2 separate regions of the Homo sapiens genome follow, and region 2 is linked to region 1. The links come from fine-mapping of genetic effects on gene expression. A gene starts in region 1. The other region holds a variant in brackets. All regions are shown on one strand. Distances are between the middles of the regions. Region 1 holds the start of LMBR1 (limb development membrane protein 1). Region 2 overlaps LMBR1 (limb development membrane protein 1).

What was found. PIP is the estimated chance that this variant, and not a neighbour inherited with it, causes the effect.
Region 2: its variant is the best candidate, but not a certain one, in a credible set for the expression of LMBR1 in iPS cells (HipSci, PIP 0.71).

Annotation. Positions count from the first base shown.
Region 1 is chr7:156,890,411-156,895,794 of GRCh38, forward strand. LMBR1 (limb development membrane protein 1) reads right to left here and starts at 2,773. Exons shown (of 17, transcript NM_022458.4): 1 at 2,518-2,773. The coding sequence starts at 2,583. It overlaps LOC102723795 (a long non-coding RNA gene), which reads left to right and starts at 2,988. Exons shown (of 4, transcript XR_928253.3): 1 at 2,988-3,253; 2 at 5,022-5,102. RefSeq lists silencers at 1,865-2,364, 2,415-2,994 and an enhancer at 5,297-5,376.
Region 2 is chr7:156,806,361-156,811,744 of GRCh38, forward strand. The region is part of intron 4 of LMBR1 (limb development membrane protein 1); the gene reads right to left. Among named protein-coding and RNA genes, the nearest start is that of LMBR1, 84 kb to the right of the region's middle. The variant C/T (reference allele first, on the strand shown) is at 2,476.

The sequences.
Region 1 (5,384 bases):
ATATGTGCAGTATATATTTCTGACAAAGAAATCATATCCACCTGTATAACAATATAATACAAGTTATTCTGTAAAGACCTTGCAAATCAATATTAAAAAGATAAACTTAATTTTTAAATGGGGAAAAAAATTTGACCCTTCACAAGATTTCCAAATGGCTAATAAACAAACAGGTGCTCAAATTCATTAGTTATCAGGAAAATGCAAATTAAAATTATTTGTATGATGAACACTATAACACACTTGCTAGAATGACTAAAATTAAAAAGGACAGAAAATATCAAGTATTGATAAAGATGAGTAACAACCACACCTCTGAGACTGTCAGTACTGGCGGAAGTGTACACTGGTACAACCACTTTGGAAAATTGTTTTAAAGTATCTACTAAAGATGAACAAATGCACACTCTTTAACCTAGGGATTCCATTCCTAGGGCTATCCCCAACAGAAATGCACAAACATGTCCACCAAAAGCTATGTACAAAAAGTTCATAGCCAGCCCGGCGTGGTGGCTCATGCCTGTAATCCCAGCACTTTGGGAGGCCAAGGCAGGTGGATCACCTGAGGTCAGGAGTTCAAGGCCAGCCTGGCCAGCATGGAGAAACCCCGTCTCTAATAAAAATAGAAAAATTAGCTGGGTGTGGTGGTGTGTGCCTGTAATCCCAGCTATTCAGGAGGCTGAGGTAGGAGAATCACTTGAATCCCGGAGGCAGAGGTTGCAGTGAGCCGAGATTGTGCCACTGCACTCCAGCCTGGGAGACAGAGCGAGACTCCATCACAAAAAAAAAAAAAAAAAAAAAATATATATATATATATATATATACACACACACACACACACACACACACATATATACATACACATATATATACACATATATATATTCATAGCCAAAACCTAGAAACTACTGAAGTGCCCATCAACAGTAAAATGAAAAATAAATTGTGCTATAGTCACACAACTACTGCACCGAGAATGAATTATAACCACATACAACATGGAGAAATTTCACAAACATTGTACAAGAAACTGGACACAGAAGAGTATATACGGTAAGATTCCATTTACATAAAGTTCAAAACTAAGCAAAAACTAATCTATGATATTAGAAGCCAGGGCAACGTTTACCCTTGGTGGAGGAGAAAGTAATTGGAAGAGGGAAAGGAATCAGTCTCTGGGATCCTAGTAAAATTGTGTTTATTTATTTATTTTTTTATAATGGTAGAGATGGGGATTCACTATGTTGCCCAGGCTGACCAGTCTCAAACTCCTGGTGGATTCAGGAGTACACAGGCGTGTTTAGTATGAAATGATCTGAAGGGTACATGTATGATTACATGAACTTATCTCTGTGTATTTTAGCTTCAATTATAAAAATTACAACTAAATGTGTACCAAATTCCACTAACTCAAATTCCACCAGCTCAGACTTTATATGTCCTCTTTATTCAAAGTATGACTTCCAAAGTGATTCTCAATTTTCAAGATCAGTGAGTACACAAATTAGATAATTCTAAAGCAGAATTTTTTCACCTCAAACCAAGTGTGACTGAATCGTAGACAACTTAGGAGAGGCGTAAATATAAACATAAAAAATTGACATATTTTACAACAGTTATGAAAACACAGATAAACCCAATTACAATACATTCTAGAGCATCATGAAAAGATAAAAACATCAAAGTAGACTTTCCAAGGTCAAGTCCGCTTCCTGACTCCTGCCAACAGCACACATGGAACATGGGCCAAAAAAGAAGCTGCTTCCCTAAGAAGTTGCTTCCATAGCAAAATGGACTTTTGCTGAGGTCCTCACTCCCAAAAATAACCAATATTCTCATCCCAAACGGTAAGGTTTCGAACTCAACCCACGTGGGGGCTGGGGGAGATGAAAGAGGGATGGAAACGTGAGGCGCCAGGAGGGCAGGAGGTGTTGACCGGGACAAGGTAACCGGCCGGGTCCAAACGCGAGAGGCGGGCGGGCTCCGCGCAGCCCGGCCCTTCCCGGACCCGCCGGGCCCACCCAGGCTCTCCGGGACGCCTGCGCATCCACCTGCCTACCTGGCCTGGCGGCGGAGCGCGGGGGCGCGCACTGGCGGGGCCGCCGTCCACACCCCGAGGCGCGAGCCGCACACCCGCCCAGAGAGGAAGCCCCTGGGGTCCCAGAGCGCGGCGCGCACCGCAGCCCTCCCCGCGGGAAGGGAAGGGCAGCACCGAGGCCGCGGGGCGGGGGCGGGGTCGGGGCTCGAACGGAGGGAGCGCGAGGGGGCAGGGGAGGCAAGAGCGGAGCGGGGGGGCAGGCAGAGGAAGCGAAGGGGAGGGGAGGGGAGAGGAGAGGTGGGGAGGGAAGGGGAGGGGAGGGGAGAGGAGGGGTGGGGAGGGAGAGCGGCAGAGGCCGGGGCGGGAGGCGCGAGGCGAGGCCCGGAGGTGAGGGGTCCGGGGACCGGGGGCCCGGGGGCGGGGACGGAGGGCCCGGGCGGGCACGCGGGACTGTCAGGGCTGCCTCGGTCCCCACGCACCGTGGACTCCCGCACTTGGCTGTGGAAGTGCTGCTCCCGCGCCGACACCTCGTCCTGCCCTTCCATCCTCCTTCATGCCCGCCGCCGCGCCGCCCGCGTCCGCGTGCTCCGCCACACCATCGTCCGCCCGCCGCAGGGGCTCGGACAGCCGCGCCGGGGACCGGAGCCGGCACGGGCCCGCGAGCCGTGTTGGAACAGGTACCGCGACCACGACACCGGCCGTCGCCTCAGCAGCCTCAGACGAGCAGCTCTGACTAAGGGAGGGCGGGCGCCGCGCAGTCGGGGGCGGGGCGGGGGCGGGGCAGGGAGGGGAGGGGGCGGTGCAGGCATACGTCAGACGAAAGGCGCCGATGCGTCAGAAAAGCGCGCCTCGCGGTCTTCCGAGCTGCTGGGCCGGGAGGCGCTGAGGGGGCGGGGCCTTGAGGTCGCGGGGCGGGGCTCCGCCCACGCTCTCAGGGGCTACCCCAGTTAAGGAGGCGCTGTCCTGGCGTCGGATGGGGACGGGGAACGCGGCGAGGGCGCTGCGACCTCTGCCCACCTGGCCCGGCCGCAGTCTCGGAGTTCCTGTTCCTCACAGGAGCTAATTATTTATGACAGCTGCATGGTTCCCCTCCCCCAGTTACTCAGTGCTTGGCACTCGGCACCCCTTACTCAGCACTCAGTACCGCACTCGGCCTCAGGGGACCTGGGCAGAGGGAAGCAGGGAGTCTCCCGCGGAAACTCTTGCTCTGCCAAAGTAGGTTGAAAGGTCGGAAATCGGTGGTTTGGGGCCGGGCTTTGGGCGGAAACCCAGCTTCTCTGGGTCTGAGAAGGGTCTTGGGCTGCCCCACCTGGAAAACGCAGATAACCGAGCTCGCTAGACCCTTGCCAAGTCCTTCCGGTAGCTCGGTCACTAGGGTCAGTTTTATGACTCTCAGTGGACCCTAAACAGCACGTAATATATGTATTTTTCACCGCCAAATATATCAAACACAATAATTCACCCTCCGTTCCCTATTATCTTTCTTTTTGTTATAAAATTTGAATTTAAGGGAATGTTTATAATTTTACCTTAGGATTTATTTGGCTACGAGGAAGTCATTTAAATTGCTAGTGGCTGCGATTTTTGTTTTTGGCATCTTTGAGAATTCTTAGGAAGTGTGAAAATCTACAAATTGCTTTCAAATGTCATTTAGTTTTTGTTTTTGTTTTTTTTTTTTTTGAGACAGAGTTTCACTCTTGTCGCCCAGGCTGGAGTGCAATGGCGATCTCTGCTCACAACAACCTCTGCCTCTTGGGTTCAAGTGATTCTCCTGCCTCAGCCTCCCGAGTAGCTGGGATTACAGGCGCCCGCCACCACGCCCAGCTAATTTTTGTATTTTTAGTAGAGACGGGGTTTCACCACGTTGGCCAAGCTGTTCTTGAACTCCTGACCTCAGGTGATCCGCCCACCTCGTCCTCCCAAAGTGCTGGGATTACAGGCCTGAGCCACCGCGCCCGGCCGTTGTTTAGATTTTTATGAATCTAAATTTAACAGTCAATGAAGTTGTTGTAAAGTTCTTCAAAGACAAATATGTGGTAATTTAAACCTTGCCGTTTCTCTTCACAATTTTGAGTAGAGAAAATTTTTTCACAACTCAAACTTCTTATGGTGCTTGGCGAAGTTGGAGGCCCCGACACACGGTTTCTATGAGTTCACTATAGCTGAACATTGTGGTGGTGGGAGAACTTAGAGAACCTGAGGCTTGTTCTCAGCATGTGCCCTGCTGCCACAGGCTGATTGATCATAATCCAAGAACAACTGTCAACTGGTTAAATTCAACGTTCACCTTTATTTTTTAGAATGTCTTGGAGCCCTAAAGAACCTGGATAATTTCTGGGTTAATTCTCTCCAAATCAGAGGGCAAGCAGATTAGATTTTAAAGTGTATGGCATTTAAACACAGATTCCAGAAAGTGAATGCATGTAGTATTCCTCATCTTTTTAATGCAATACTCCAACCATCTAGACCTTTTGATTTTCTTTTATGCAATCATCCCTAGAGGTTTACCCACCACTGGTACTTGTAACACTTAACCCAGGGTAGTCAACTTCAACAATGGCCACGTACTCACCACTCCCTATACGCTCACCCTCTGCCATCTGGCTTTGTCCTTCCTCCCAGCAAGAAATGGACTCTACTTTCCAGCCCTGGAATCAGCCTGGCTGGGTGACCTGCTCTAGCCAGTGGGACATTGAAAAATACAAAACTATAGGAAAGTGCTTGTACATTAGGACTTGCCCTTTCTTACGGACCCTAGGGACCCTCAATGGCCACTGGCCACTGCATCATAAGCCCCAGCCCAGCTGAAGATAGGTGACCTGGTCACCTCCATCACCCCAGCCAACACCCTCTTTCCCACATCCCTAAACGCTGTTGTATAAGACCACATGGGCCATTGTAACGGCTTTGGCTTTTATTCTGGGAGAGGTTAGGAGCCACTGTGGGTTATTGACAGGTGTGATGTGATCTGACTGCTGCTCAGGGCCTGGACAGCAAATGAGGAAGACTTATTGCAGAAATTCAGAGCCTAGTGACCTGGACCAGGGTGGAGGCAGCAGAGGAGGTGAGAGGCGGTCGGTTTCTGAATGCATTTTGAAAGGAGGATTTCCTATCAGGATTTCCTATCACATGGGGATGTGGTCAGAAAAAGAGAAAGACAGGGAGGGCTCCAAGGCATCTGCCTTAGCAGCCAGAAGGACAGTTGCATCACCAAAGGGGGGGAAGGCTGCAGTTAGAACAAGTTTTGGAGAAAAGACACAGAGTTCTTAAAATGTGATGATGACACCTCCTGGCCACCAAGATATGCTGTGTGGATATGAAGTTTCATTTCATATCAGAAGAACAT
Region 2 (5,384 bases), 84 kb before region 1:
AATAGCTTTTTTATAACAGATCCCATCAGAATTTCCGCATAGAAAATATCATCTGTGAAATAGTTTTACTGTTTCCTTTCCAACTTCAGTGACTTATTTTTTTTAAAAAAAACCTCCAGAATGATGTTACATAGAAGTGGTAAGAACAGATGTCCTTGCCTTGTTCCTGATCTCAGGGGGAAAGCATCCAGTCTTTCACCATTAAGTATGATGTTATCAGTAGGTTTTTTGTAGATGCTTTTTTTTTTTTTTTTTTTTTTTTTTTTTGAGACGGAGTCTCACTCTGTCGCCCAGGCTGGAGTGCAGTGGTGCGATTTCTCAGCTCACTGCAACCTCCACCTCCCAGGTTCAAGCAATTCTCCTGTCTCAGCCTCCCGAATAGCTGGGACTACAGGTGCACACCACCATGCCCAGTTAAGTTTTATATTTTTAGTAGGGACAGGGTTTCACCACATTGGTCAGACTGGTCTCGAACTCCTGACCTCAGGTGATCCACCCGCCTCAGCCTCCCAAAGTGCTGGGATTACAGGCGTGAGCCACTACGCCCAGCCTGATGCATTTTATTAGGATGAGAACATCCCATTTCAGGCCTACTTTGCTGAGAGATTTTACCAGAAATGGATACTGAATTTTGTCATATGCTTTTTCTGCATGTATTGTTACGACCATATGACTTTTTTTTTTCTAGCACGTTAATAAAATCACATGGATTGGCATTGCAAAAGTCATGATGTATTATCATTTTTATACAGTGTTACATTTGATTCGCTAAAATTGTATTTAGAACTTAAGCATCTATGTTCGTGACACTGGCCTGTCATGAAACTTTCAGTTTTCATGTATTGTCTGCCTGGTTTTGGTATGAGGGTAATGCTGACCTCAGTGAATTAGGAAATGTTCCCACATCTTCAATTTTCTAGAAGAATCTGTGCAGAACTGCTATTATTTCTTCCTTAACTATATGATAGAACTGACAGTAAATCCTCCTGGCCTAAAGCTTTATTTGTGAGAATGTTTCTAACATTCCCAGAATATTTGAGAAGGCTTTAATAGTTTTTGCCTGTTAAGGAAATTTGTCCATTTCTCTAAGTTGTTGAATTTGTTGGATAAAGGTGTTCATAATATGCAATTATTATCCTTTTAATCACTGTTCAATATGTAGTGATGTCACCTCTCTCATTCCTAATACTGGCAATTGGTCTCTTCTTTTTTGCTGATCATTCTGGCATTGTTTATCAATTTCAGTGTTCTTCTTGGTGATTTCCTGTTTTCTATTTCATTGATTTCCTCTCTCAAGATTTTTAAAGAAAGATTTCCCTTCTTTGGGATCTATTCGTTGACTCTGCAGAAACTGATTTGAGGCCTTTTTTCTGTTGTAATACAGGTATTTCGTGCTATACATTGACCTTTAAAAACTTTTTAGACACATCCCGCAAATATTAAAATGTTTTATTTTCATTTCATTCAGTTCAAAGCACTTTCAAATTTCCCTTTTGATTATTCTTTGACCAGTGAGTTATTGTAAAGTATGTTATCAATTACCAAATACTCAGGGATCTTCTAGATTGTTTCTAGGTAAGTTTTCTGACACTTATTTAATTTCATTGTCCTTACAGAGTGTATCTTGTATGACTTAAAATCCTAAAATGTATTGAGACTTATTTTATGGCAAAGAATGTGATCTCTCTTGGTAAATGCCCACATTGTACTGGAAAAGAATATGTATTCTATTCTTGGATGTTCTATAAATGTTAATTAGGTCAAGTCAGTTGATAGTATTATTCAAATCTTCTATATCGTGATTTTTTCTTCTATATGTTCTATCAATTATTGAAAGAAGGGTGTTGAAATATCTGAATGTAATTGTGATTCTGACTACACTTTCCGTTTTTGCTTCATGTACTTAATATATGTCATTAGGCAGATATATGCTAAGTATCATTAGGCTCTTTGGGTGAACAAACCACTTCAACATGATGAAATGATCTTCTTTATGACTGGTAATATTCTTTGCCCTTGTCTGATAATCATATAGCCACTCCAACTTTGCTCTGTTTAAAATTAGCATGGTGTATCTTTTTTCTCCTACTGCCATTGACCTAGTTTTGTCTTTACAGTGGGTATCCTGCAAGCAGATATACTTCAGTCTTGCTTTTATATTCAATTTGATAATCTCTGCCTTTTAGTTGTAGTGTTTAGAACATTACATTTAAAGTGATTATTGATATAGTTAGCTTTAAATCTATCAACTTGCTTTTTGTTTTCTATTTGCCCCATGTGTTAGCTTCCCTTCTTCTATGTTCCCACAGATTAAGTATTTTTTATGATTCTAGTTTATTTCCTTTGTTTACTTATTCACTATATCTCTGTTGGGCTATTTCTGGTTTGTCTTCAGGTTTATCATATACGCCTTTAACTCATCACAATCTGCCTTCAGATGATTTTATTGGCTGCTCTGCCAATGAAATAGCCATT[C/T]CTTTTATTCCTTTACTTTCTTAATAAACTTGCTGTCACTTAGAAAAAAAAAGATAACACTTCACGTAGAGCATGAGAACTTCACAACAGTGTGCTTCCGTGGCTTTCCTCCTGTGTGTTATCGTTGTCATATAACTTACTTGTACATCTATAATAAAATTCATAATACATTGTTACTACTTTTTAAACAGCCAATTATCTTTTCTAAACACAGGATTTTTAAAAAGCTTCTCTACATATAAACTGCTGCTTCTAGTGCTCTTCATTTCATTTTGTAGAGTTAGGAAATGAGTTAAGATATATTCCCTCGGGTTTGTTTAGCTCACGGTTCCTAGATATCTATCTCCTACCCACCTCCTACCACATGAAGGACAACCTGTAACATTTTTTAATGTACAGCTCTGCTGATGATGAATTTTTATCTTTTGTGTATCTGACACTATCACTATTTTGCCTTTGTTTTGAAAAATATTTTCACTGGGGATAAAACTAGACTGGCTGGGATTTTTCTTTTAGTACAATCCTCCCTCAGTGTCTGTAGGGGATTGGTTCCAAGACCTCCCATAGATACTAAAATCCACAGATGCTCAAGTCCCTTATGTAAAATGGCATGGTATTTGCATATAACCTATGCATATCCTCCTATATACTTTAAATCATCCATAGATTACTTACAATACCTAATACAGTGTAAATCTATGTAAATAATTATACTATATTGTTTAGGGAATAAGAAGAAAAAACTCTGTACATGCTCACTATAAACACAACCATCTTTTTTTCCAATATTTGTGATCCGTGGTTGGTTGAATCTACAGATCTAGAATCCACAGATCCAGAGGGCTGACTACACTGTTGCTACACTGTCACAACGTCATCTGGCTTGCATTGTTTCCCACCAGAAACATGCTGTGATTCTTATTATTGCTCCTCTGAACTTAACGTGTCTCTTTTTGTAGATGCATTTAAGATTTTCTCTTTATCACTGATTTTGAGCCATCAGATTACATGCGTTGGTACAGTTTTCCTCATGTTTCTTGTACATAGAACTGGTTAAGCTTCTAAAATCAGTGGGTTTATAGTTCTCATCAATTTTGAAATGTTTCTGCCATTAAGTTTCCAAATATTTTTCTCAACTCCCCTCCTTTAGAAACACCAACTACATCACTGATACCCTGTGTGTTAGCCCACTTTGCATTGCCATCAAGGAATACCTGAGGCTGGGTAATTTATTAAAAAAAAAAGAGAGAGATTTATTTGGCTCACAGTTCTACAGGCTGTACAAGAAGCTTGGTGCCAACAGCTGCTGTGAGGAGGGCCTCAAGCTGCTTCCATTCGTGGCGAAAGGCGAAGGGGAGCTGGCATATGCAGAGATCACAGGAGAAGACAGGAAGCAATGGAGAGGGGGTTGTGCCAGGCTCTTTTTAACAACCAGCTCTTATGAGAATAAAGAACTCACTCACCCACCTCCCGGGAGGGAATTCATCTATTCTTGGGGGATCTGCCCCACTGGCCCAAACACCTCCCACTAGATCCACCTCCAACACTAGGAATCAAATTTCTCTCTCTTTTTTTGAGATAGTGTCTCGCTCTGTCCTCCAGGCTGGAGTGCAGTGGCACAATTTCAGCTCACTGCAGCCTCTGCCTCCCAGGTTGAAGTGATTCTCCTGCCTCAGCCTCCCGAGTAGCTGGGATTACAGGCATGCACCACCACGCCTGGCTAATTTTTGTATTTTTAGTAAAAATGGTGTTTCATCATGTTGGCCAGGCTGGTCTCAAACTCCTGACCTCAAGTGATCCACCCACCCAGGCTTCCCAAAGTGCTGGGATTACAGGTGTGAGCCACCATGCCTGGCCCTGGGAGTCAAATTTCAACATGAGGTATGGGGGAATAAACATCCAAACTACAGCACTATTGTCACTTTTCAGCCATTTTTCCCTCTGTGTTTCACTTTCACATAGTTTTTTGATTTTTTTGTTTTTTGTTTTTTTACATGGAGTGTTGCTCTGTCACCCAGGCTGGAGTACAGTGGCGCAATCTTGGCTCACTACAACCTCCACCTCTCCCGGGTTCAAGCGATTCTCCTCCCTCAGCCTCCCAAGTAGCTGAGTCTACAGGCATGCACCACCATGCCTGGCTAATTTTTGTATTTTTAGTAGAGACGAGGTTTCACCAAGTTGGCCAGGCTGGTCTTGAACTCCCGACCTCAGGTGATCCACCCACCTCAGCCTCCCAAAGTGCCAGGATTACAGGCATGAGCCACAGCGCCCAGCCCCACTTTTGAATAGTTTTCTATTGCTATGTCCTCAAATTCATTAATCTCTTCTGCAATGTCTAATCTGCTATTAATCTACTGTTTTATATACTTTCACATCACATGCTATAGTTTTCATCTCTAGAATTTTGTTTTTTTACATCTTTTACATCTCAGTATGTTCAACATTTCCTCTAAGTTTCTGGAACATATGGAATAGTTATAAGAATTGTTTTCCTGGCCAGGCGCGGTGGCTCACGCCTGTAATCCCAGCACTTTGGGAGGCCGAGGCAGGTGGATCACGAGGTCAAGAGATCAAAACCATCCTGGCCAACATGGTGAAACCCCGTCTCTACTAAAAATACAAAAATTAGCTGGGCATGGTGGCACACGCCTGTAGTCCAGCTACTCGGGAGGCTGAGGCAGAAGAATCACCTAAACCCGGGAGGCGGAGGTTGCAGTGAGCCAAGATTGCACCACTGCACTCCAGCCTGGGCGACAGAGTCAGACTCCGTCTCAAAAAAAAAAAAGAATTGTTTTCATGTATTTGTCTACTAATTCTGACATCTCAGTTGCAGACTCAAGGTAGGCATAGTGGACAAGGTCCCCATGCCTGAATCCCCAGCCTTCTGTGAGTATGTTGCATGGTGTACT